7 linked regions of the Homo sapiens genome follow. The protein of the gene in region 2 interacts with the protein of the main gene of each other region in a pairwise test. Each region holds a gene or a part of one and is shown on either strand. Other genes may lie near its edges. The genes, in order: SRXN1, RSPH1, DOCK3, SOX10, NETO1, DCTN6 and MFGE8.

Region 1 (4,015 bases), on a different chromosome or scaffold from region 2:
GAAAAGGGAGAATCTAAGTTGACTTCCTGTTAGGGGCCCACACAGCCAGGTGGAGAGTAGGTCATCCTCTAAACAGGGAAAGTCTGGGGCAGGACGGGTGCAGGGTAGAGCACTCTGGGGAGACCCCATTAAGTGTGAGCGGCGTGGAAGGCCTCCTGCTGCTGGTCCACGGGTTCTCTCTCATGATTCCACAAATGATTATTCAGCAGTAAGGTGCAGCAGTCACAAGCCTGAGCTCTGGAACCTGGCACACCTGACTTTGGATCTCAGCTCCTCTCCACAGCAGCTGGGGCACACAGCCCTCTGAACACCATTCCTCACCTGTAAACTGGGAATAAAACATCCTAGAGGGCTGCTGATGAAGAGTCAGTGAGCTGATGCCTACCGGGCATTAGTGGAGCACTAAGGAGGGCAGCCGTGCCAGGCAGGCCTTGTGCCGGGTACTGGAGGCACGATGGTGGATGGCCAGAATGATGGCTCCCAAAGATGTCCACGCCCGAATGCTTCTGAATGTGTTACCTTACATGGGAGAAGGGACTTGGCAGACAGAATTAAGGTAAGGATCCTGAGATGCGGAAATTATCCAAGGTTATCTAGATGGGTCGAATGCCATTATCAGGGTCCTTAAAACTGGAAGAGGAAGTAGAGGAAGAGGTCAGAGTGATGCGATGTGAGAAGGCCTTGGCCTGATGTTGCTGGCTTTGAAGACAGAGGAAGAGGCCATAAGCCAAGCAGTGTGGGTGGCGTCTGGAAGCTGGGAAAGGCGAGGAAATGGATTCTCCCCTAGAGCCTACAGAAAGTAGTGCAGCCCTGCTTGGTGTTAGCCCAGTAAGACCCATTTTGGACTTCTGACCATAAATAAACCTGTGTTGTTTTAAGCCATCAACTTTGTGGTAACTTACAGTGGCCCCAGAAAACTAATACAGGTGTATGTAAGCAAAGGCAGAGCTGGTTCTGGCCCTCAGAGCCTACGGTTCTAGCACGGAAGGCAGGTGTCTAGACAGGACGTTAAAAGCCAGTGGGCTGTAATCCCAGCACTTTGGGAGGCCGAGGTGGGCAGATCGCTTGAGGTCTGGAGTTTCAGACCAGCCTGGCCAACAGGGTGAAACCCCATCTCTACTAAAAATACAAAAATTAGCCAGGCGTGGTGGTGGGCGCCTGTAATCCCAGCTACTTGGGAGGCTGAGGCAGGAGAATGGCTTGAACCCGGGAGGCGGAGGTTGCAGTGAGCCAAGATCGTGCCACTGCACTCCAGCCAGGGTGACAGACCCAGACAACGTCTTAAAAAAAAAAAAAAAAAGCCAGTGAGATCAGAGCTATGCAGGTGGGCACACAGGTGGCTGCAGGCCCACAGAAGCTCCTAACCCGGTAGGGATGGTCAGGGAAGATCCTGACACTGAGACAGGAAGACCGAGAAAGAGTGAGAAACGACAAGGCAGAGATAGAAGAGGTTCTCAACGGGAGAAAAAGCCCAGTGGTGGGACAGGGCATGCATGGCAGATCCCTTCCCATCTCAGCCAGGCGCCGTGCTACTATTGTGGCAACAGATAAGATGGGACGAGGTCCTCGCCCTTGTGGAGTGCACGTGAGGTCAGGAAGACAGAAAATAAAATGCAACACAAATAGATGTATAATATAATTTCTGGTGGACATAAGTGGTATCCTGAAAAACATCTCGGGCTAAGGGGAGAGCTAGAGAGGCCAGTGACTCTGACCAAGGGTGATCAAGGAGGCAGAGAGCTGAACCAGGCAGGGGAGCAGGCCCTGTGGTTGTCTGGGGAAGTGGCTCCAGGCAGTGAGGACACTAGTGTAAATACTAGGACTGAAAGTTATCGGGGGTGGCTGTAGAGGTGCTGGGTGGGGCTTAGGGATCTCATGTGCTCACCTTCCAAGGGTCGGGGGAAGGGGACACAACGTTATGTAGGCCTAACCTGACACCTGTTCTTGCGGGGCCCCCAAGTTCCTGCCAGAATCACTCCGGTATTCTTAACACCCTTCCTCAGTGGTGGAGCTGACCCTTGACCTCTCCCACTTCCCATTCAGACAAGGGCCTCCCAGCAGATATGACACACCTAGTCCCACTGTCACTGACTGTCACAGCCATGAGAGCCCACGGCTTATCTCCGGGTAGTGCGGTGGCCATGTGCTGGGCAGTGGGGCCCAGGCTGCCTGGGTGTGAATTCCAGCCGTGTCACTTTTTAAGCGCCTGATCTTAGTCAAGCCGCTGAAATCTTCCCTGCCTCAGTTCTCGTCTGCAAAAGAGCCACTATCTACCTCCTAGGGTTGGCATAGGAAACTGAGGGACTTCCTGCAGTTCCTGGACCACTGCAAGCACTAGCGTTATAAGCGTTATCATCACTACTTTAATTATCTCGCCCAATTCCCTCCTTGCTCAAGTGAGGAAACAGAGGCCCAGAGAGGCCCAGCTACTTGCTCAAGGTCACACAGCAGAGGCTGAGCTCCGGCTGGGCCCGGAACCAGTCCGTCTCGCGTCCATCGCAGCGACCTCCCTCCTCCGGCAACCTCCCTCCTCCGAAGCCCTCCCTCCGGTTGGCTGGACTCCCCGAGGCCTCACCCGGATCGTGTCCACGAGGCTCTGCACCTTGGCGGGGTCCAACACGGACGGCAGCGGCCGGATGAGCACGCTCAGCGGCACGTTGTGCACCGCGGCGATGCGGCCCGAGTGGATGCTGCCGCCCTGCGCGCCGCCGCTCGGCCCGGGCCCCTCGGGCGCCCCCCGACCCGCGCCGGCCCTGCCCAGCGTTCCTCCTGCACGCAGCCCCATCGTCGCCGCCGCCGCGGGACTCGCCGCCTCCCCCCGGCCTTAACTCCGGCCGGGCCATACCATTCCGCGCGGCCGGGGGGGGGGGCCCGTGCCAGGGCAGCGCGCGTTTCTCCCCCGACCCCGCCGCGGTCCGGCCTCGACCCCGCGGTCCCCAGCCCGACTCCGGCTCCGCTCGCCAGGTGCCGCCAGACTCGCGCGGGGCTCAGGCTCTCCACCGGGGGGCGCCTCTCGCCTCCCCTGCGCCGCGCGGCGTCCGGGGAGTGGAAACGCCCGGGCGGGCTGACTCAGGGTGAGTTTGCAGGTCGCGGGGCGGGAGGGGCGCGGGTGACGCACCGGCCGGGCCGACTTAGGCCGCGGGGGCGGGGGCGGGGGAGAGCGCGGCGGACCTGCCCAGCCAGGGTGAGTCGGCAAAGCCCGCGGTGCGCTGCTGCCCCGCTGCTGGGGTTCCTAGCCAGCGAGGTTATGATCCCCACCAGCGGTTCCACTTCCAGTCTGGCGCCGGCTGTGTCTGGAGTCGTTCCGAACATTTTGCACGTGTATTAACGTATCTGAACCTCAAAACAACCCTGCAAGGAAGGTATGACTGTTATTCCCATTTTACAGAAGAGGAGACTGAGACACAGGTTTAAGTGATGTACCCAAGATCACGGAACTAGTAAGTGGCCGAATCCGCGTTCAAATCCAGACGGTCTGGCTCCAGAGTCCGCCTTCTACCCCACCGTTGGCTGCCTTGGTTCAGCAACAGTGACTGTCACACGGAGCCCTCAGGAGTCGCGCTGACAATGGGTGGGCCCTGCCTTCAAGTTCCACACTGTCTGTTTGTGTCATTACAACACTACTGGAAGTAGGTGCAGTTATAGACCCGCTGTTCAAGGTCAGCTGAAATGAAAGTCAGGTCACACGAGTCCAAACTGTGGGGCCACTTAACCACCAACTCCAAGCAGGAAGGTGGACGATCCCAGACTCGGTCGAAGACAAGCATGTCTGGTTTGCTTGTCTTCCTTCTCAACCTGAATGGCACGAACATGGAGAAATGCATACTTACCCTGCCAGCTGGAGAAAACTGGAGACGAAGGAGGGAGCCAGGAGTTTCTACTTTGCCTTCCACCAGTTGCTGACACTTTCTGAACCCCGTCTGTAAAATGAAGTCATGCTGCCCATCACTCAAAGTTGTGTGAATTGAGAGAGTGCTCATAGTGCTCTGTGAATTGCATAACATCCATTTTGCTG
Region 2 (3,500 bases):
AGCCATAGAAAGATTGGACCTGCCTGGCAGAGTTGGTAACTGGGCTTTTGTTATGATTCTGTTCCTCAGTAAGTGTAAACAATCTGCAGACATCATGTTCTCATTACATAAGCAAATCCCGTTAAGACCCAAGATAGAAACCGAACCTTTGATGAGCAAACCACTCTCCAGTGTAGGTGTCATTATTGATGTAGTAGTATACGCCATGGCCGTGCCGCAGGTCATTTGCCCACTCTCCTGAAAGGAACAACACAAAGGCAAGCCCAGGTGAGAAGAAGGGATCGATGCCCTGTACCATGTCTTCAAATTGTTAACCATGGCAAAGGCAGATGTGTTGTGAAGCAAATGAAGCCCATGCACACACAGGCCCCTTCTGCTCAGGAAATCCTGCAGAAGAGAGATTTTTAACAGCACCGACCAAGGCTGCTATCTGTTTCCACTCTGACATCCCTCCACCCCTTCCTTTTGTGCCAGATGGCATAGGTGCTGAGCCACGGTGGACAGTGGGCTAAGAGAGGGCTGAGTCAGGAGTTCACGGGGTACAGAGTGAGGTGTATGGATGTGGGCCACAGCCACCTGCATGTACTGACAAGCACATTTCACAGGTTAGTCAGAGGCACCACGAAGATGCAACGAGGAGGGAGACAAACCAAGGTTGTCTGACCCATTGCCAGTGATCCTAACACCACACTTCATTTACCTTGCAAATGTTTAGAGATCCAGCAACAACTCCAGGGCTTGACCATCTATCCTCAGCCACCTGGCAGCATTTCAGTCTATCTCCCACCCAATCATCTGACTCCAACATGCCACTCTAACCCCAGCTGCACACCAGCTCCATCCGCTGGTGCCATGCCTCTGTTTGAACTCTTCCCTCACCTCCTCACCTCCATACGGCTTCTGCTAAGTCCTTATAGGCTTGGTAGGCAGTACTGAAATTGGCAAGGATATCATAAAATTCATAATACCACTCCATGATGTGGACAACTGCAAACTACTTTTGTCAACCACAGTATGAATCCCTGCACTAGAAAACTCAAAACGTCCTCAAATCTTACAGCTCACTTAGGAAAGAAACTTAATAGAGGTCTCCCAAAGGTGACTGCTCTTAAAAACGTGCATATTACACCAAGTCATTAAGCTAAATGATATGTTTTGAGACTATGAATAATAAAAAGCAAATGTTGATCAATTTGTTGATCAAAGAGAAAAGAAGGAATTATATTTCTATTCTCTCTATAGAAAACATTACAAAATGGTTGCCATATGGAGAAGCATTCAAAGAGTATTAGCTAACAAAGGTAGAGAAAAGCTATTCTAGAAGTATGTCAGACATTAAAACTCAGGCTACTTAGATTCTGTGATGTTTGTGGTATTTTTAAATTTTTAACTTATTTTGATTTATCATTGCAAATGAAAATTCACTTTTATACCAACTTTATATTTTCTTTTTTTTAAAGAGGTTCTCAAAACTTACATAAGCTTCTGGCTTACACAAAAACTGGACCCACTTCCACATGAAGATAAAGAATACCCAATAGGCTAAGAAAATGCTAATTATTCAAGTAATATTTGTTTATGTGAATAACCCCAAAATTTATCTGCAGAAGGAACTTCTACATATTTATTTCCTCAATCATCCCATTATTTACTCAGCACCTACAATGTCCTGGGCACTTTGTGAGATGAACGAAGAGCTGTACAAAGGACAGTGCATGTCCCCAGGGCGCGAGCACCAGCCTGAGGATGGAAGGTTGGCACCTGAGCAGCAGCTGAGGACAGGGAAGGCAGCACGAAAAGCTGCATGGCACAATTTCAAAAAGTGGGTAAGTCATTCAGAAAAGAGCAGGCTTACCAAAAATTCATGGAGAGAGGGAAGGTGGCAACTGCTAACAATTAAGGAAGAGGACTAGGTCCCATGATGTGATGTGTGACAGGAACAATGTGAACAAGAGAGATGAAGATCCCCAAATTGAGATAATTCAGTAAAAAATACTTCAGGTCCCTGAACCTAAATTAACCATGAGGATGTGCAAATACCTAGAGGGATTTGTCTGGGTCTTAAGGGGCAGTGATGTGCCTGGATTTGTAACATTTGCCAGGTTCTGTGGTGTAAATACTCACACCGCGGCCAATTTCAAGCTACACATGGAGCTGGGAAGAGATGCACAGAATGGGTTTTTGTGAGCTACTATGAGGGGGTTCCAGCACAGCCCTGGGGCATAGAGACCTCAGCTGAAACAGGTACATCATTTGGTTTCTTCCCAACAAAACTTCATGACAAAATTATTACATCCCTCCTCTCTTGGCCATGTCAGAGGATCTCCAGGGTGTCATGGTGAGAAAAATATATTACATATTTTGCAGAAAAATTTCAAAAATAAAAGAGAACAGTTAAGTTGCAAAAGACACTAAATTTTGCACCAAGAGGACGGTGAGCAAAATTTTTTAAAGTCCCAATCTACTTAAAAAACCTGTTAAGAGGCTCGGCCCAGCATTTTGTAATGCCACCACAGGGACCCTGCACAAATAGAGAAGGTAATTCAGAGAAAAGTCACCTGCTGAGGCACATCTCTAACAGCTATAAGTCAAGTTTCCTTTTTTGAGGTGAGTGACATTTGTAAACTTTATTATTGTGGCTTTAAATTTGCACTTAATTTTTTTTTTAAAGTCTTTCTACCCCAATCCTATACTTTCTGATCATTCTTGAACTTGTCAACTGAGGTTTTTTCCAACTATATTTCTTCTCAGGAGTAACTCCCAGTTGGTTGGTTGGTTGGTTGGTTGGTTGATTTGTTGGTTAACTGGTTGGTTGGTTGGTTGGCTGGTTGGCTGGTTGGTTAGTTGGCTAACCGATTGGTTGGTTGGTTGGTTGGCTGGCTGGTTGGTTGGTTAACTGGTTGGCTGGGTGGTTGGCTAGTCAGTTGGCTGGTTGGTTGATTGGTTGGCTGTTTGGTTGGCTGGTTCGTTGGTTGTTTGGTTGGTTGGCTAGTCAGTTGACTGGTTTGTTGATTGGTTAGCTGTTTGGTTGGCTGGTTGGCTGGTTGGTTGGTTGGTTGGTTGGTTGGCTGGTTGGCTAATTGGTTGGTTGGTTAGACAGTTGGTTGGTTAATTGGTTGGTTGATTGGTTGCTTGGTTGGCTAGTCAGTTGGCTGGTTGGTTGATTGGTTGGCTGTTTGATTGGCTGGTTGTGGGTCAGTTGGCTGGTGTGGAGCAGGTGCTCCTTGGGTAGAGCAGTTTGTCTGGCACTTGGGATTGAAGACAATTTAAAATGAGAAGCTCTCCAAGATGCTCCTCCCCCCTCAAATGCTGGTTGGTCACTGGTTTGCCATGCTGGCCCATGGTCTTGCCAAGTTGGCTCCCTAAACTGCTGGGTCAGCCAAACACAGGAGAGAAGGAGCCCACACTTATGGGGAAACACTCGGTGTCAGACCCTGGGCAGGGTTCCGTGCACTTGCCACAGCATTTGGTATGTGTAATCGCTGAAATATGGTTTTACA
Region 3 (3,500 bases), on a different chromosome or scaffold from region 2:
AAAAATGTAAAAGAAACAAAAAAGAATCATATGGTTGGCTGAACCTGAACTGCTGACTTCCTTTGGGCAATGCCCTCTTCACGACTAAAACACCCTCCTAACTGCACTGGAACCTAGACCAAAGGCCGTGTGCGAGGCCCCAGGTTGACTCCACATTAAGAGAAGCACATCTGGAATAAACTGAAGCTGGTCTGAGCTCATAGGAGTGTGTTAACAGGTTTTCTCGCTACGGAATAAGTAGAACAAGATCTGGGAAGAAGGAGAGGAAGAGCTTATTATTAGTTGTCAATAGGTGGGCACCAATTACATAAGGATTGGTGTTGGGTTTTATTAGACTGCTAAATGGCCCAGCTCTTAGTGACCTGGGTTGTCTGTGACACAGTCTACGGGGAGACAGAACATAAAATCCTGATGTATGTAACTGAAAAATAGCACAGCTCTATTTTAGCTTAATTAATTCATATTAAGTATGTAGATTTCTGGGCAGACACTTCTGATCTCAAACCCTACTGGGTGACAGCATGTTTGTTTGTGTCCCTGTGTACAACTCAGAGGAAACAACTGTTAAGGTTTCCTCACGTCCTTCAAAAGCTGTAGTGAACAGGGGCCCTAAGTCCACTGGGGATATTTCTGAGCTTGGTGTGAAGAAGCACCGGGTTTTCCACCTGCTTCTTCCAAAGCATACAGAGGGCTAAAATGTATTTCTGTAGCTGGAGAAAGGCTATGTGTGCACACGGAAGAACGTGATGTATATAGGAAAGTGTTTTGTGCTTTTTGCTGCAACCCACATGGCAGAGAACCTCCTCACTGGCCAGGCTCCAGCCTGCTTGGGTCACCTGCTGTGATGGGGAAGTTTGCACACAGCAGAGACCAGTCAAACAGGCAGGAGACCCTGGAATGAGAGGTAGTGGAATGAATACCCACCAGACTCAGCGATACTGCCCAAGTTCTTAACTAAATGGACACTCCAATTTTAAGGCGGAGATGTAAAAGAGCTTCTCTGCATATTTCACCTTGAAATACCATGGGAGAATCCTAACAGAGGGAGAAATTTCAGGATCTCCAGGCTTTCCTCTGGAAAATGTGCCCCTACCTCTCAAACTACAACAAGCTTCTTTTTCTCTTTTCATGCTGTCCACACTTGTCCACACAGGCTGAGACCTGCACTGGGAGCCTGGAGGGACGGAGATGACCAGAACCTGCAGCATCCAAGAACACAGCAGGTCCGCCCCAAATGGGTCAGGCCCACTGAGTTTAAGTAGTGCAACCTCCCTCAGGGCTCCTGTGGCCATGGTTATCCCTAGAGGGGGAATTTTTTGCTCATGACAACCTCGTGCAGCATTGAACAGCTCTACTTCTTGTCTCCCTGCCACTTCTGTCCAGTGGTCCTGGGTGATGAGAAGAGAACTTGGCTTGGGTGCCAGGTAGCAGCAGGTAATTGGGCTCATATCCCTTAAGATCTGGGAGCCAGCCTGTTTAGCAGGAAGGGATCTTTAGAAAACATTTGGAGTCAGCCCCACAGTTGAAAATGAGGTTTGGATATGTGAATAGGGGGCTCTATCCTCAGCCAGTCAGCATTTCCTCTAAGACCCTGCCAAGGAATACTGGTCCTGGAATATAAGTCCTGTTTGTGTGTTTAAGTCCTTGGGCCAAACCCTACTGTGGAGGCTGAAGAGCTGGGCCAGAGTTAGGGAGACTTTCAGGAGCCTGGTCCAGCCCCAGGACCTGCTTGACTCCTTTAAGGACTGCTAGCATGAAAGTACTGCTCATCCTAGGCTATCTCAGATGTGAGCTTGGATCACGAGACATGATAGAGGAAGCTGGGAATAAGAGGGAGGGAGAGACAGAGGGAGAAAAGGGAGTTGGGAGGAAGAGTAAAAAGAGGGAAAAGAGAACGATTAGAGGGAGGAGAAAGAATGAAGAAGGACAGGGAGAGAGGAGGAGGAGGGAGATGGGGAGAGAAGGCTGGCTCAGGCCATGCCTATCTCTTTAGGTTCTTGGGATGAAAAACATCTCCAAAAAGATCCCTACATGTGGGCCATATATGTTAGCTCTCTTCCTTCACATATGAAAACCTGTCTACTAGCACAGTGCCCTGAAAAACGTTCCCTGCCCTTGAATCTGGCTCCTCCTTTGGGAGTGAGTGAGTGGGAGGATCCTCAGCATCCTTCCCCTGGATATAGCATCCATCCTTGCCCCCTGTCCCTCTGTAGGGAGGACAGCCTCTCTCCCCAACCCCGGCCCCTGCCCAGGCTCCCTCTCTCCTATTTTCCTTTGGTTTGTGGCGTAGGTCTGGAGGAAGTGACACCTGGTTCTACTGCAGCAGGGGCAGGACAGGGATCAACTTACATGGTAGAGACTGGCCCGCATCATCTGGAACTGATCAATTAGCTTCTTATGCAGAGGCCGCATTTCTGGGTGCACAAACTTCTCATGAACTGCTAGCCCAACTCCAAGGACATGAACCTATCAGAGTCACAAACAAGGCCACTCTGTGAACCATGAGTAGCCCCTGAGAACTGCTCATCTTGTAGTGCATGGCTTTTCTCACCTGGCTGCTGGTTCCCAAGCCCTCCAAGACATACCTGCTCCTGCATAAGCTCCTTGAGCTGGGTGATCTTCTCAGCATCTCCTGGGTGCTTGTTGATGTAATCTTTATCAAAGAAGGCCTGTGAAAGGAAAGGCCAAGTCAGGAAGACTCTTCCCAGGACTACTACTTAAGTGGGGCCCAGGAGACTTGAGTCCACTAATGCCACCTAAAAAGCAGCCAGGCTGTCTCCTCATAGGTACATACACCAGTCTGGCCTGTTTGAACTTCTGGCAATTAGAGGTGTGTTTTTTTGTCTGAGAAGGACTGAACGTGGCCAAGCCATCTAAGTCTGGATGCTGACCCCAGTCCCTCATGGAGCCTGGATGGCCTAGGTAGGGCAGGCAGGACTGGTGGACTGGGAGTAGGGGCTAGCCTCTTATCCAGCCTACAACTCACTTCTCCTGACGGGCTGGGCTCCAAGGCTCCTCTTGGAGGGCACTTAACATCCTCCCATAATCAGGATTACAGATTACCCATCTTAGAGTTCAGAGAATAAAAATGAAGAAAAGGCCCTACCAAACTGTGCCAAAGAAATAGGGAGTGATAGGGAGCTTAGGGCCTCATTCCAGGACCATGTCAAGAGAGGGCATGTAGGGAAGGCTACCTAAGGAGACTATAATCTTGAAAAGAGAAGCCTGTGAGCCGCCTTCCTGGCCAGGCTGGCTGCATGGGTTTGGCCTGTGGCCACAGCTTACCTCCTGATAGCGTGCAATGCCTCCATTGACAGCTGCATCAATGACACCATTCAGGCACATGCTTAGCAGGTTAATGTTGCCATGCACCTGCTTGTGTTGATACTGGCTGATCAGGGAGCGTAGCTCCTGGTTCTTATTCTCAACCACTTGGATGGCATTCTCCAGAGGGCTCACCTCCACCTAGGGGCACACAGCACACAGAGTCATCCCAGAAA
Region 4 (3,500 bases), on a different chromosome or scaffold from region 2:
TGGCTCCTCCATTGTCCCTGTCCCCAGGTTCCCCCAGCCCAGAACCCTGGGCTTGGACTCCCTTCAGGAGGACTTATTCTTGGCCATCACTCAAGCTGTGTGCACAGGGGCCAGCCTGAGGTGTGGCAGTCAGGAAAACTGGCACTACTTGCTGAGGACCCAATCCCAATGGGAGGATGGGGCCAGAACCATGGCAAGGATCAAAGGCAATGCCAACAGAGGGTGGCTCCCTGGACCCTGGAGGGGGGTCCTGAGAGACATTTGGATTTGGGCTGGGCTGGCCAATTGCTCCAGGGGCTTCTCCTGAAACCTCCCCAAGCTGTGACTCCTGGGATGTCAAGAAGTGGGGTGGTTAGGTAGGCAGAGCTGGAAAACAGGTGTCTTAAAACCAAAAAGAGAAAGATACACACAGACTGTGTGGAGTGCCCCAAGGGAGTGTGGGATCAGACACACTGGAGCCCAGGTCCTAAGGGGCCGTGTCAGCCCCAACAGTCATTCTAACCTTTGATGCCCATCTGGGGAGGGGCTAGTTGAGGCTGATCACAGGGTGGTGCCTGTGGGTTGGCTGATCTGCCTGGAAAGAACCAGAGCCAAGAAACTGGAAAGGCGGACACAGGCAAGAGTCCCTCCTGTGTGGTGGGGGTCACCCAGCCTCTGTTCCCAGTGCCACAGGCCCCTTCCCCAAGTAGTCTTCTTATGCCCCTGGCCTAGCAGGACACAGGTAGCAGCAATCAGTGCCCCACTGTGGGAGGTCCCCGGTTGGGGTTTCCAGTTTGGGTGAGGAATCAGCCTACCTCTTCTTGCCCCCATTCCAAACCTGGGAGACCAGGGAGAAAGAGGGCTGACAGGAAGGTGCAGATGAGGACTGGGTTTGGAGTTAGAGCTGGAGGCGAAGTTGGGGGTTTGGGGCTGGTAATGTTGAGTGGGGACTGGTGCTGGAGATTGGGTTTACATGGTGGGCAGGCTGGGCTTGGGGTTGGGGTGGAGGTGGAATCAGCTGTCCGGCACAGCTGGTGGAGGAGGGAGCTGGGGTCGGGGATGGCAGTGGCCCCAGGCTTAGATTTCTGTCAGGGTTAGGCTAATGCTGGGAACTAGCTTAGGAGGTAGCAGCGGAATCCGATGTTGGAATCCTCTCTCTCTTCTGGCCCCTGTCACTTTCTTGCTGATGCTGGCTGCCAGCTGGGCAGGGGGCAAGGGAAGGATAGGTGAAAGAGTGAGCTCTGTGTCCCATGTCCCCAGCCATCCCAGAAGCCCCTCTGTTGGGGTCCACTGCTGGCGGAGCAGCTCTCTCCTCTGTGGGTTCTCCCCAGTCACACCCTCAAGGCCTGCTCCACCCCCTCCCCTGGTCCCAGCCGTCAGAGAGGGTGCCCACATCCCACTCCCTGACTCTCAAGGCCCTGCTCCGGCATCTTTGTCCTAAGTGTGTACACTGACTCTGACAGAGTCTCGGCTGGAGGGACCCTCTGAGAAAGCTGGGGCTAGGGCTGGGCTCAGGGCCGGGGTGGGGGGAGTAGACAGGGAGGCTAAGCCGCAGAGGAATGCTGCTGCCGGCTAGGAGGTGCCTGGCATGACCACCCCCGCCCAGCCTGGGGAGGGAGGGCTCGGCCTTCTGCTGACTGGGGGAAGAGGGCACTCACTGGGGTGTGAGGGGTGGGGCAGCTGAAGAGACAAGCCCTCTGGACTGACAGACAAGGCTGCTCCCACAAAGACTCATGGATTCTCAGTACCAAGGTCTGGGATTCTAGAATCTGGACTTTCCCCTCGACCCCCTCTGTAAGGTACCCCATCCTGCCCTCCTCACCCTGGGGCAGCCAAACCCTAAATGCCCTCCACCCTCCAACCCTGGCCTAAGGCTGGAGTCGGTGGCAAGGGCGCTGGCTTCAGGGCTTCTTCTCTCCATGTGTTGGTTTCAGGGACTGTTCCAGGGTCTGAGGAGAGGCTAGCTTCCTCTACTCTCTGCTATTTTCTGGACAAGGATATAGGATCCCCCACAGGAGGCAGTACCCCCCACCCAGACCCATGGTAAAGAGGAGCCACATCTGCCCCCTCAGTCCCACCACACTGGAATTCACACAATCAGGACCCAGAGTTAAGAGTCCAACCCTAGATCCTCCTGTCCAACCACCCCCGCAAGCAGCATTAGAAAAGCACCTCTTGGGGCCGGGCACGGTGGCTCATGCCTATAATCTCAGCACTTTGGGAGGCCAAGGCGGGTGGATCACCTGAGGTCAGGAGTTGGAGACCAGCCTGGCCAATATGGTGAAACCTCGTCTCTACTAAAAATACAAAAATTAGCCAGGCATGGTGGTGCGTGCCTGTAGTCCCAGCTACCCGGGAGGCTGAGGCAGGAGAATCGCTTGAACTCAGGAAGCCGAGATTGCAGTGAGCTGAGACCGCATCACGGCACTCCAGCCTGGGCGACAGAGTGAGACTCTGTCTCTAAATAAATAAAAAATTAAAAATAGAAAAGTACCTCTTGGGCTGGGCACAATGGCTCATGCCTGTAATCCCAGCACTTTGGAAGGCCAAGGCAGGCGGATCAACTAAGGTCAGGAGTTGGAGACCAGCCTGGTCAACATGGTGAAACCCCATCTCTACTAAAAATACAAAAATTAACCGGGCGTGGTGGCGCATGCTTGTAATCCCAGCTACTTGGGAGGCTGAGGCACAAGAATCACTTGAACCTGGGAGGCAGAGGTTGCAGTGAGCTGAGATCATACCACTGAGCTCTAGCATGGGTGACAGAGTGAGATTCCCTCACAGAAAAAAAAAAGAAAGAAAGAAAAGCACCTCTTCCTCAAGGTGCTCAGCCCGCTTCCCAGGCCCTGGTGCAAGGCATCTCACATCCATTATTCTGGCCAATCCCACACCCAAGTTAAGCCAATGTTATCATCCTTTTATAGGTGAAGAAACTCAGGCTCAGAGAAGTAATTTGCTCAAGGTCACACACACAGCTAGTAAGTAGCAGAGACTGAGTTCTCCCCCAGCCATGCTGCTTCTATTGCCCACCCTCAGTCCCAGGGAGCTCACCCCCACTGAAGTAGCCAATTCCACTTGCAGACAGCTTTGATGATGAGAAAGTTTTTCCTTTCCTTGAACTGGCATCTGCCCCTTGAAACCTCTACTCCTACTTCTAACTCCTCCTCAGGGGCTGCCAGGAGCAGCGGGCTGACCCCTCTCTCACCCTCCAGCCCATGAAAGATTTGGGGGCAGCCCTCTGAGGCTGTTATTCCTTGGGCCTCACATCTCTCAGTCCACAAATCATAGGGCACAGCCCCCACCCCGGGTCCTGTCCTCTGGGTGCCCCATCCCAGGGCCTCACATCTTCCAAGATGGACACTCAGAGGGAGGCCAACCTGGAGTGCTCTGGCATTCACGCCAGCCCCTCTGCTGTCCTCTCCGCCTCCCACCACACCCCAGGCTGCTGAACGAAAGTGACAAGCGCCCCTTCATCGAGGAGGCTGAGCGGCTCCGTATGCAGCACAAGAAAGACCACCCGG
Region 5 (3,500 bases), on a different chromosome or scaffold from region 2:
TAAGTGTAAATGATGAATATACTATACTATCCTATGCAATTCCTAATATAAATATTATGTAATATGTGAAAGAAAAGTATTTTTGTGTTCCTACCAAAAATAAATACATTATATTGAAAAATATGTTATTTTGGGATTAAAATTGTCCATCAAGATGGGTGAGCCATCTTGGTAAGGCAATCGTTTTCAAATATCATTTCATATCTCAAAATATATAAATATTGATGGGAGCAATGGTCACATGGAAGTAAGTTTGCATTATAAATCTGTATTATAAATTAAAAGCCATCATTTTATAAAATAAATATGTGTATATGTTTAGAAATAAATAAAGTATCTTTGGTCTCTGTGTGCATGTGTGTTCACACACATACATATCGTGCACATGTATGAGGTTTAGGAAGAATATGGATAGCAGTGAAAAGGAAAAAGAAGAGGGAAACTATTGGAAAACTAGGGTTTAAATCATTAATTAAAGGGAAACTGAAATATGAAGACAAAATAGAAGACAATACTCTGGAAGTATTTCAGTCTTCAGGTTATAGTTGTCATCAAAAAATCTATTGATACTGACCGCTGGACGGCTTTATCGTGTCTGGACAGCCTGTGACTGGTGGTCGGCACCTCTTCGATTTCATCTATGTCACAGGCATCTGCAGCATCTTGCGAGTAGCTGTGTTTCATGACAAGGATATTTCTTCTGTTCATGGGTGGGATGAGGGGTTTTCCTGGCTGTGTGGGCATCTCTGTCAAGATAGAAGCATCTCTTGTGCTGAGGTTACTGCGGCTGCCTTTAGTGCTGGACAGCTGTGATCCACAGTGATGGTCATGAATGCATTTGGAAGATGACCTCCGCAGTTTATGGTAATTTTCAAAGTCATCTGCCACATCTGCAAAGTCAGCTGTAGCTCCTGTCCCTCTGAGAGTGCATAACTCATAATGAGGAGGTTCAAATACCTCCTGGAAAACTGTCTGGTCAAAGTCTGATTTCCTTTGGACATACTTTTTACGAGGCTGTTTGATCTGTACGATGACAGAGATGATAATGAGGATGATCACGATGCAGGAAGTCACGCCAATGACAGTCCCACTGGTGTTGGTCAGCTGGTCCAGCAGGCTGGTTTTCCTCTTCTCTATAGGTTGGAGAGAGTGAAAACAACAAACGGACAAAAGAAGAAGCAACGCAGCAAACATTAATATTATAGTCAAAATGTGTATTAAAAACTTAAAGTAAAGCAGGCTGAGCACAGAATTTTTACAGGCTTATAATAACTTAAGAAAATATTTAAAAATAAATACAAGGTCTCGTTTTTCACCAAAAAAATCCACTGAGCAGCCTTAAAAATAGCCCTCCCTCCCCATTGCCCAGCATCTCAGCTTAAAATACACACACACACACACACACACACACACACACACACACACAATCCTCTATCTATCTAATCTATCGTAGGTTAAGAAAATATTTTAAAATAAATACAAAGTCTCTTTTTTCACAAAAAATACACTGACCAGTCTTAAAAATAGCCCCCCTCCCCATCGTCCAGCATCTCATCTTAAAATACACACACACACACACACACACACACAATCTATCTATAAAGTAACAACAATATTCTGATACCAAAGGATAATTCAATTCAATCTGAAGACACACACTTTTGGAATGATGGCATGGACTCTTTCCCAAATGAAATAATCACAACTGGTAGAAAATTATTTTAAAAACTCAACCAATTAAAGCCTGGTTTAATGAAACTCAGGAAATTGTCCTAATGATGTACATCAAGTGGAAATATATTTATATAAACCAATCTACTAAATGTCCTTAGGACCAGTGAGAGTCTGTGGCATTTGAGCCATGACTTGCTTCCTCCACTCTTGATTCACCACGATGGGAACCCTACTCAGGGAGGTGTGGACAAGAACGCAGGGCACCCTCTCCCTGCAGCTCCCAGTTAAGTGAGTTATGGAATCTCCTTAGAAGGGGAAAGCTACCAGCATTTCTCAATGCCCAACCAGGTCCATGTTGGACATGCTTCTTTTCTGGCCTGAGTGGCTGAGATGTCTGGGGCTCCCGAGGTTCCTCCTCTCAGCCTTCACTTGGAGGGCAGGAGCTCAACACCAGGTGTCTCCAGTGGAGAATGCCAGGCTTGGATCATGCTTACCCAAGTTTGCTGACACAGGAGAGCTGCCTGGAGTGGCAAGTTGACAACACCACATGTTAGCAACCTCACCCAAGTGCTCTGTGCATAAACAGACCTGTACCACTGTTCCTGCCCCGACCCAGAAGAAGCTGTGCCCAGAAAGAGAGTCAGGCTGAAAGTACAGAAAGCATTATAGCTTCCCCTAAATAAAGTTAGTTTATTTGAAATGGTGTGTGGAGAAACTTAAGCCTAATGATAATTTCAAAAACTATGGAGATTTTGTGGTATGCACAGGCTTCTGGACATTCGAAAGTTCGTCTTATTGCTCTAAAGACACTAACTGCCTCTTAGTGTTTTATGAGGGCCTGGCTGGTACTTGGATAGGAGACCACCTGGGAATACCGAGTGCTGTATGCATTTAAGAGGCAGTGTGCAATTAAGTATGCAATTAAGAGACAGTTAGTGTCTTAAGAGCCATAAGACGAACCTTAGAACATCTAGAAGTTTAACAGAACGAGCTAGGAGAGTAACAGCTAATGAGAGTCCTCCTGGGTTATAACAACTCACAAAGGCTAGACTCAAGGACTACCCTTGCAATTAATTAAATTTAATTGACTAGACTGTAGAAAAATTTATGATCTTGGGCACTGTCAAAAGCAGTAGAGCAATCAGCCGGCAATTGGTGGAGACTAACAACTGGCTGCAATACCAACAGAGGTGATAGCTAAATAGAGAGAACAGGAAATGAGAGAGGCACAGAGAGCCCTGTTAAAACCGTGTTGCCCAAGGCTGATGGTGCGAAGTCCAAGGCGGTGGCCTCTGTGGTGCAGCATCAGAGGCTTCACTAAAATGGTCCAGCCAAGTCTACATTTAGAAACAAACAAGAAAAACTACAAGTCCTGGGAGGAAGGAGTTAGTATTCAGAGATGCTACTAATCTAACATGTGATTTTCAACAAAACATTATAATACATGTAAAGAAACAGTAAAGCGAAGTGTATATATAGGAAAAAAAAAAGCAGGCAATGAAAAGACCCTTTGGGGAGCCGGATATTGGAGTTGGCAAAGATTTCAAAGCAGCTATAATCAATATGTCTAAGGAACTAAAGCAAGCTATGACTGAAGAAGCTAAAGAAAATGAGGACAATGCTCATCAAATAGAGAATATTAATGAAGAAATATAAATCATATAAAAATGTAAAGTCTAGAATTGAACAGTACAATTACTAACATGATAACTTCCTGGAGCCTCAACAGTACATTTCAGCTGGAAGAAGAAAGTATCAGCTAACTTTATAAAGACAGAGGCATGCGAATAGTGCAATATGAAAATGAGTTTCAAAACAAGAAGGCA
Region 6 (3,500 bases), on a different chromosome or scaffold from region 2:
TAAGACTAGCTTGGCAAAATAGCGAGACCCTGTCTCAAAAAAAAAAAAAGAAAGAAAAAAAAAACCAAAACGGGGTTGTTGTAACATTGGGGGATTTAAAAAAAAAAGAAAAGAAAAAATGTAAAATGGGGAAGAAGTAGAAATGCCAGGGAAAATCTACATAATTAATTACATCACTTCAGTCTTACTTTCCTTCTAACTGAAGAATGCATTGCAAACTACTATAAGGTATTATTCCTAGAATATCATGATGATAGCCACAATTATAATGCAGTAAAATGATGAGTAAAAAGAACACAGAGGAGCATTTTGATAAATATGTGGTCCCAGTCTGCAGTAGAGATTGTAAAAAATTAAAAAACATAACTTTCCTCATTTTGCTTCATAAACACTTCGCAAGTGGTTTAGGTAATACAAAAGACAAAGAGTTACCACGGCACTGAAAAGAAATAATTAAATCAACCAACCTGGCAAATTCTTTTTTCTTTTTTCTTTTTTTTTTTTTCTGAGAAGGAGTTTCGCTCTTGTTGCCCAGGCTGGAGTGCAACGGCGCGATCTCGGCTCACCGCAACCTCTGCCTCCCAGGTTCAAGCAATTGTCCTGCCTCAGCCTCCCGAGTAGCTGGGATTACAGGCATGCACCACCATGCCCAGCTAATTTTGTATTTTTAGTAGTGACGGGGTTTCTCCATGTTGAGGCTGGTCTTGAACTCCTGACCTCATGTGATCCGCCCGCCTCAGCCTCACAAAGTGCTGGGATTACAGGCGTGAGCCACCGTGCCCGTCCTAACCTGGCAAATTCTTAACAATGTTCCATAATACTGGCACAATCTCCACTGGTTTTATAAGACAAGATGCCTAAATTGTTTGGAGGCTTAGATTTTTTTTTGGAAAAAAAAAATGACGTTACAGGGTTTTTTTTTTTTTCATTAAAGAAACTGTTCATTTAAGGAAATAAAGTGTATTTCCTCTCTGAAAGTGTAATAGTTCACTGAACACTTTAGTCTGGTAGCATACAGGTGACATGCGGCTGCTGGTAAGAATGAGCTCACACCAATAAAACTACAAGGGCACCATATCCAGGTAAACCCCAGTTAAAAGAACAGAGTAAAATGTTTGAGGAACTTAGTCAAGTTCACGTAAGTAAAATGTTGGACTTGAACTCTGGCAAGGCTACACTGAGAAGATCTGACAGCGTTAACAGCAAATATTTATTGACAGCTTACTACTCACAATTTTCATGTTTTCTTTCAAGAAACCTAGGAGGTAGATACTACTATTTTGCATGTTATGAAAATTGCTCATTGCCATCCAATATCTCTTCTCCTCTTTTTCCTTGTAATAGAACCCTGATCTCATTAGCGGCTGCAATGCAACCAGCTAAGACTACAACTCCCAAACTCCCTTGCAGCTTGATGTGTCCATGAGATTGTCTTAGCCATGAGACACACAGAGGAGGGTCGTGTGGAACTTTCAGGAAGGCTGTTTAAAGGGAGCTGACTCACAGCTGGAACACATGCCCTTTTGCTTCCACGCCTCCCCTTTCTCATCCAAGATGATGCTTGGTGCTCTAGCCATCACTTCCTGGCCTGCAGGGCCGGAGCTCCATGCTGGACAATCAACCGATCAGCCCTCCATTACTCACCTTGAAACTTTTTATATGAGAGAATAAACCTCTGCAGGTGTAAGCCACCCCTACATGCAGCCGAACCTGATCCTGATACACACAATTATATAGATGGGAAAAACATCAAGGTTAGAGAGGTTAAGTAATATGTTCAAAGTAACCCAGCAAGAAAGGAGCAAGGAGCAGAGTAGCCCAGGTCTGTTGACTCCATGGCCCACGCTCTCCACGAAGCTCCACAAAGGCAGCACCTTTGTCTGCTGTGCTTACTGACGTGTCTCTAGCACTAGCACAGTGCCTGGCACATCGCAGGTACACAACAGATCTCTCTTAAATACATGAATGACTTTGTTATACAGCCTCATTAGTATTTCAGATAGGAGTTTAAACACAGCCTCCATCACACTACATTCTTTCAGAAATTTAAACACATAGGAGAAAATGCATTATTTTGTCAATAAAACTAGGACATCAGTGAAATAAACATGGAAGACGGTATCTAATTGTAAAGCACTAAAATAGATTAAATCACATCAATTCTTGAAAAACAGTAAATAAACTATTTCTTACCGATAGTTACATCTCCTCTGATTTCACTTTCTACACATACAACTGCTCCAGGAGCAATCTTCACACTGTAGCAAGAAAAAGGTAACATTTACCAGGGGTAAGATTAAACATACTGTTGGAGGAGCTACCGTGACATTGTAATGAAAACAAGGTTTAAAAAATGATGGAAAAAAAGGCCAGGCGCAGTGGCTCACGCCTGTAATCCTAGCACTTTGGGAGGCCGAGGTGGGGGGATCACCTGAGGTCAGGAGTTCGACACCAGCCTTACCAACATGAAGAAACCCCATCTCTACTAAAAATACAAAACTAGCCAGGCGTGGTGGCGAGCACCTGTAATCCCAGCTACTTGGGAGGCTGAGGCAGGAGAATCACTTGAACTCGGGAGACAGAGTTTGCAGTGAGCCGAGATCGCGCCATTGCACTCAAGCATGGGCAACAAGAGTGAAACTCTGTCTCAGGAAAAAAAAAAAAAAAAAGATGGAAAAATGGAAAGTCAATGGTAAGAGGGTAAGGTTTTAATACATTATAAATTTTTCAATTGGTATATTGTCCATCATCCCAAATCACATGTGCTAAAACACTTGAGAAGAGTTTTGAATCTTTTCTTTTAATAGCAGCACGTTTCTAAACAACAAAAAGCTGAAAACAACCTAGATATTCATCAGTGGAAGATTAGTTAATAAATTATGGCACATTATGGACTATTACATGGCCATCAAAAAGAATGAATAATCTCTTGTCAAGATTTTGGAATGGCTGAGCACAGTGGCTCACACCTGTAATCCCAGCACTCTGGGAGGCCAAGGAAGGAGAACTGCTTAAGCCCAGGAATTCAAGACCAGCCTGGGCAACATAGTGAGACCTCATCTTTTTTTTTTGAGACAGAGTTTCACTCTTGTTGCCCAGGCTGGAGTGCAATGGCACCATCTCGGCTCACTGCAACCTCTGCCTCCCAGGTTCAAGCAACTCTCCTGCCTCAGCCTCCCTAGTAGCTGGGATTACAGGCATGTGCCACCACACCTGGCTAATTTTGTATTTTTAGTAGAGACGGGGTTTTTTCAGGTTGGTGAGGCTGGTCTCGAACTCCCGACCTCAGGTGATCCACCCACCTCAGCCTCCCAAAGTGCTGAGATTACAGGCATAAGCCACCGTGCCCGGCGACCTCATCTCTTAAAAAAAAAAATATGGAATGATCTCCAAGCTATATTGTTAAAAGTAAAAAAGAGTGAAGTGAGAAAATGGACAGTATGTAATATGCCATTATTTTTGTAAAGGTAGGAAGAAAAAATATACATTCAAACTATTTA
Region 7 (2,598 bases), on a different chromosome or scaffold from region 2:
CCCTAGTATCTCATTTTATAGATGGGGAGACTGAGAGCCAGAGAGAGGAAGGGACTTCCTAGAGTGCTGGAGCTGACAGTCCTGTCCCTGCCCTGGTGCCCCTTCCAACTGCATTTTACCAGAAAGGCTGTCTGACTTCCTGGGGAGGCTGAGAGTGAGGAGGGTATGAACCACTAGAAGCAGATGATCTGTAGAGGGGTCTGCGTTGAGCACATTGTGCAGAATTGGTGTCCTCTGCAAAGCTGCCCAGGTTTTAGCCTGCCTCAGGCCTCTCCTCTTCTGGGGCCAAGGGACAACCAGCTCTCAGCCCGGGAGCCTCTCTTTGAGGGGGAAGGTGGTGGTTCCCTGGTGCATCACCATCAGGAGATGATGGTACCATCAGCAGGCATTGTCAACACACCCTGGAGGCAAATGTCTTGAGTGGTGAGAGTACAGGTGGGCAGTGATATAACTTAGCTGGCTCCCAGTACTCTTGAGTGGTGAGAGTATTGGAGGGCAGTGATATAACTTAGCTGGCTCCCAGAGGGCAGGGGGCTCTCCAGTCCCACCGTCCACTCCTGCCTCCCTCAATTCCCCAGAGGGATAGACACTTGTGGAGTGAGGATTCTTCCAGGTGGGAGACACCCCCATCATTCTCTTGGGAGTTGTATCTCTTGCCCATCCCCAACTGTTCTATCCATATGCAGGTGCAGATACAAGTGCAAGGCAGCCCGGCACATTCCTGAGTGTTTGGGGCAGGGCTGAGTGAAACAAAGGCCAGCTTCCCGGGCCAGCCCTCACAGGCCTGTGTGACAGCATCCCCAGAACATTTGAGTGTGCGAAGGCCCTCTGGGAGACACTAAGTCAGGGGGCTTCTGGGGAATGGAAATAGAGATGTTCCTGTGCCCCAGGAGTTGTCTGATTTCTCTAACTGCCAGCTGCTGGAGGGCAGGGATGTTGTCCTGTTCATCACTGGGTCGTCACTAGGCAGGCCTTCATCATCTAGCTGGGATGTGTAGCTGGTAGAGGTGACGTCATAGTGTGACATTAGGAGTTTGTATGTGACTTGAGCATGATGCTTAATGTCTTTCAGTTTTCTCATCTATAGAATGGGCTTACTAATTTCTACTTCATTTAGTGTTTTTTTTTCTTTTTTTTTTTGGTGGCAGGTTAAATGACTGAAGTAAGCACTGAATAAACAATGTGGTTGTTATTAAAGTAGATAGTGACTGTGCCATGGGACGGATGGGAGGCCGAGGCGATGGGGGCAGTGCTGTGAGTCCAGAAGAGGAAGAAATCCTGCCCAAGTGAAGTAGTCAGGGCAGACTTCTTGGAGGAGGTGTCTCCAAAGTCAGGCATTGAAGGAGGGCAGGAGGTGGTGGAGCAGGGGCCTTCCCTGGTGCAGAGGAGAAGGGTGGTGAGTGGGAGGTCTTGGGTGATCTGTGAGGAGCTGAGCCCGGCTGGTTGAGGTGAGGAGGTGGTGGGGTCGGCAGTGAGAAGGTCGCACAGTTGGCCCTGCAAGGCGGATGGAGCTGCTTTCTGTTGCCCAAGAGCATGACAGGGGCTGGTCAGGATCCACAGAGTTCTTTCTGCTTCATCGCCTTGTGCTCCTGCCCCTGGGAGCTGTGGATCCCAGATCCAGATGACAGCCCACCTTGCTGGCAGGATGCGCCAATCCCCTGGGCCTGAAGAATAACAGCATCCCTGACAAGCAGATCACGGCCTCCAGCAGCTACAAGACCTGGGGCTTGCATCTCTTCAGCTGGAACCCCTCCTATGCACGGCTGGACAAGCAGGGCAACTTCAACGCCTGGGTTGCGGGGAGCTACGGTAACGATCAGTGGCTGCAGGTGGGTCAGCCTTCTTGGGATATGGGGCTGGGGTTGGGTGGGATGAGGTGGGACTGCCAGATCTTTGACCTCTCTCCAGCCCAGGCTTCTCTTCTGCTCCCCAAAAGAGTTCTGGAAAAGCCTTGTTTTTCTTCGGCTTTTCTTTCTTCTTCCCACCTGTACTCCCTTCTCTTGATCCTGCTTCCACCAAGGTGGAGAAAGGGTGTGTGTGTGTATGTGTGTGTGTGTGTGAATGTGTGTGTGTGAGTGTGTGAATGTGTGTGAATGTGAGTGTGTGTGAATGCGTGCGTGTGAATGCGTGCGTGTGAATGTGTGTGTGAATGTGTATGTGTGAATGTGTGTGTGTGAATGTGTGAATGTGTGTGTGAATGTGTGAGAATGTGTGTGAATGTGTGTGTGAGAATGTGTGTGTGAATGTGTGTGTGTGAATGTGTATGTGTGAATGTGTATTTGTGAATGTGTGTGAATGTGTATGTGAATGTGTATGTGAATGTGTATGTGTGAATGTGTGTGAATATGTGTGTGTGAGAATGTGTGTGTGTGTGTGAATGTGTGTGTGTGAATGTGTGTGTGTGAATGTGTGTGTATGTGTGTACACAAGGGGAGAGCCATTCCATGGGCTGCCACAGGATTGACAAGGCTCAGCCTATGGACAGACAGCAGGGCGGAGGCGGAAGAGGGAGACATGACCCAGGCATCTTGGGACCTCTCCCTTGAGCACAGCATACATATTCTCTGACTCAGTGTCTAAGAAGCCACCATGTGACAG

The links.
Region 1: the proteins of RSPH1 (region 2) and SRXN1 interact in a two-hybrid assay, tested with the Homo sapiens proteins (one large-scale study listed by BioGRID and IntAct).
Region 3: the proteins of RSPH1 (region 2) and DOCK3 interact in a two-hybrid assay, tested with the Homo sapiens proteins (one large-scale study listed by BioGRID and IntAct).
Region 4: the proteins of RSPH1 (region 2) and SOX10 interact in a two-hybrid assay, tested with the Homo sapiens proteins (one large-scale study listed by BioGRID and IntAct).
Region 5: the proteins of RSPH1 (region 2) and NETO1 interact in a two-hybrid assay, tested with the Homo sapiens proteins (one large-scale study listed by BioGRID and IntAct).
Region 6: the proteins of RSPH1 (region 2) and DCTN6 interact in a two-hybrid assay, tested with the Homo sapiens proteins (one large-scale study listed by BioGRID and IntAct).
Region 7: the proteins of RSPH1 (region 2) and MFGE8 interact in a two-hybrid assay, tested with the Homo sapiens proteins (one large-scale study listed by BioGRID and IntAct).

The regions. Positions count from the first base shown.
Region 1 is NC_000020.11:650,401-654,415, forward strand, and holds the start of SRXN1 (sulfiredoxin-1), read right to left. Parts: upstream 2,801-4,015; 5' UTR 2,786-2,800; coding exon 2,576-2,785; exon of another isoform or gene 2,553-2,575; intron 1-2,552. UniProt on the Homo sapiens protein: Contributes to oxidative stress resistance by reducing cysteine-sulfinic acid formed under exposure to oxidants in the peroxiredoxins PRDX1, PRDX2, PRDX3 and PRDX4. Does not act on PRDX5 or PRDX6.
Region 2 is NC_000021.9:42,486,225-42,489,724, forward strand, and holds part of RSPH1 (radial spoke head 1 homolog), read right to left. Parts: intron 238-3,500; coding exon 147-237; intron 1-146.
Region 3 is NC_000003.12:51,356,927-51,360,426, reverse strand, and holds part of DOCK3 (dedicator of cytokinesis protein 3), read right to left. Parts: intron 3,466-3,500; coding exon 3,286-3,465; intron 2,670-3,285; coding exon 2,586-2,669; intron 2,467-2,585; coding exon 2,350-2,466; intron 1-2,349. UniProt on the Homo sapiens protein: Potential guanine nucleotide exchange factor (GEF). GEF proteins activate some small GTPases by exchanging bound GDP for free GTP.
Region 4 is NC_000022.11:37,978,056-37,981,555, reverse strand, and holds part of SOX10 (transcription factor SOX-10), read left to right. Parts: intron 1-3,420; coding exon 3,421-3,500. UniProt on the Homo sapiens protein: Transcription factor that plays a central role in developing and mature glia.
Region 5 is NC_000018.10:72,749,488-72,752,987, forward strand, and holds part of NETO1 (neuropilin and tolloid-like protein 1 isoform 3 precursor), read right to left. Parts: intron 1,134-3,500; coding exon 575-1,133; intron 1-574.
Region 6 is NC_000008.11:30,162,869-30,166,368, reverse strand, and holds part of DCTN6 (dynactin subunit 6), read right to left. Parts: intron 2,259-3,500; coding exon 2,194-2,258; intron 1-2,193. UniProt on the Homo sapiens protein: Part of the dynactin complex that activates the molecular motor dynein for ultra-processive transport along microtubules.
Region 7 is NC_000015.10:88,900,782-88,903,379, reverse strand, and holds part of MFGE8 (lactadherin isoform a preproprotein), read left to right. Parts: exon of another isoform or gene 1-1,197; intron 1,198-1,644; coding exon 1,645-1,829; intron 1,830-2,598.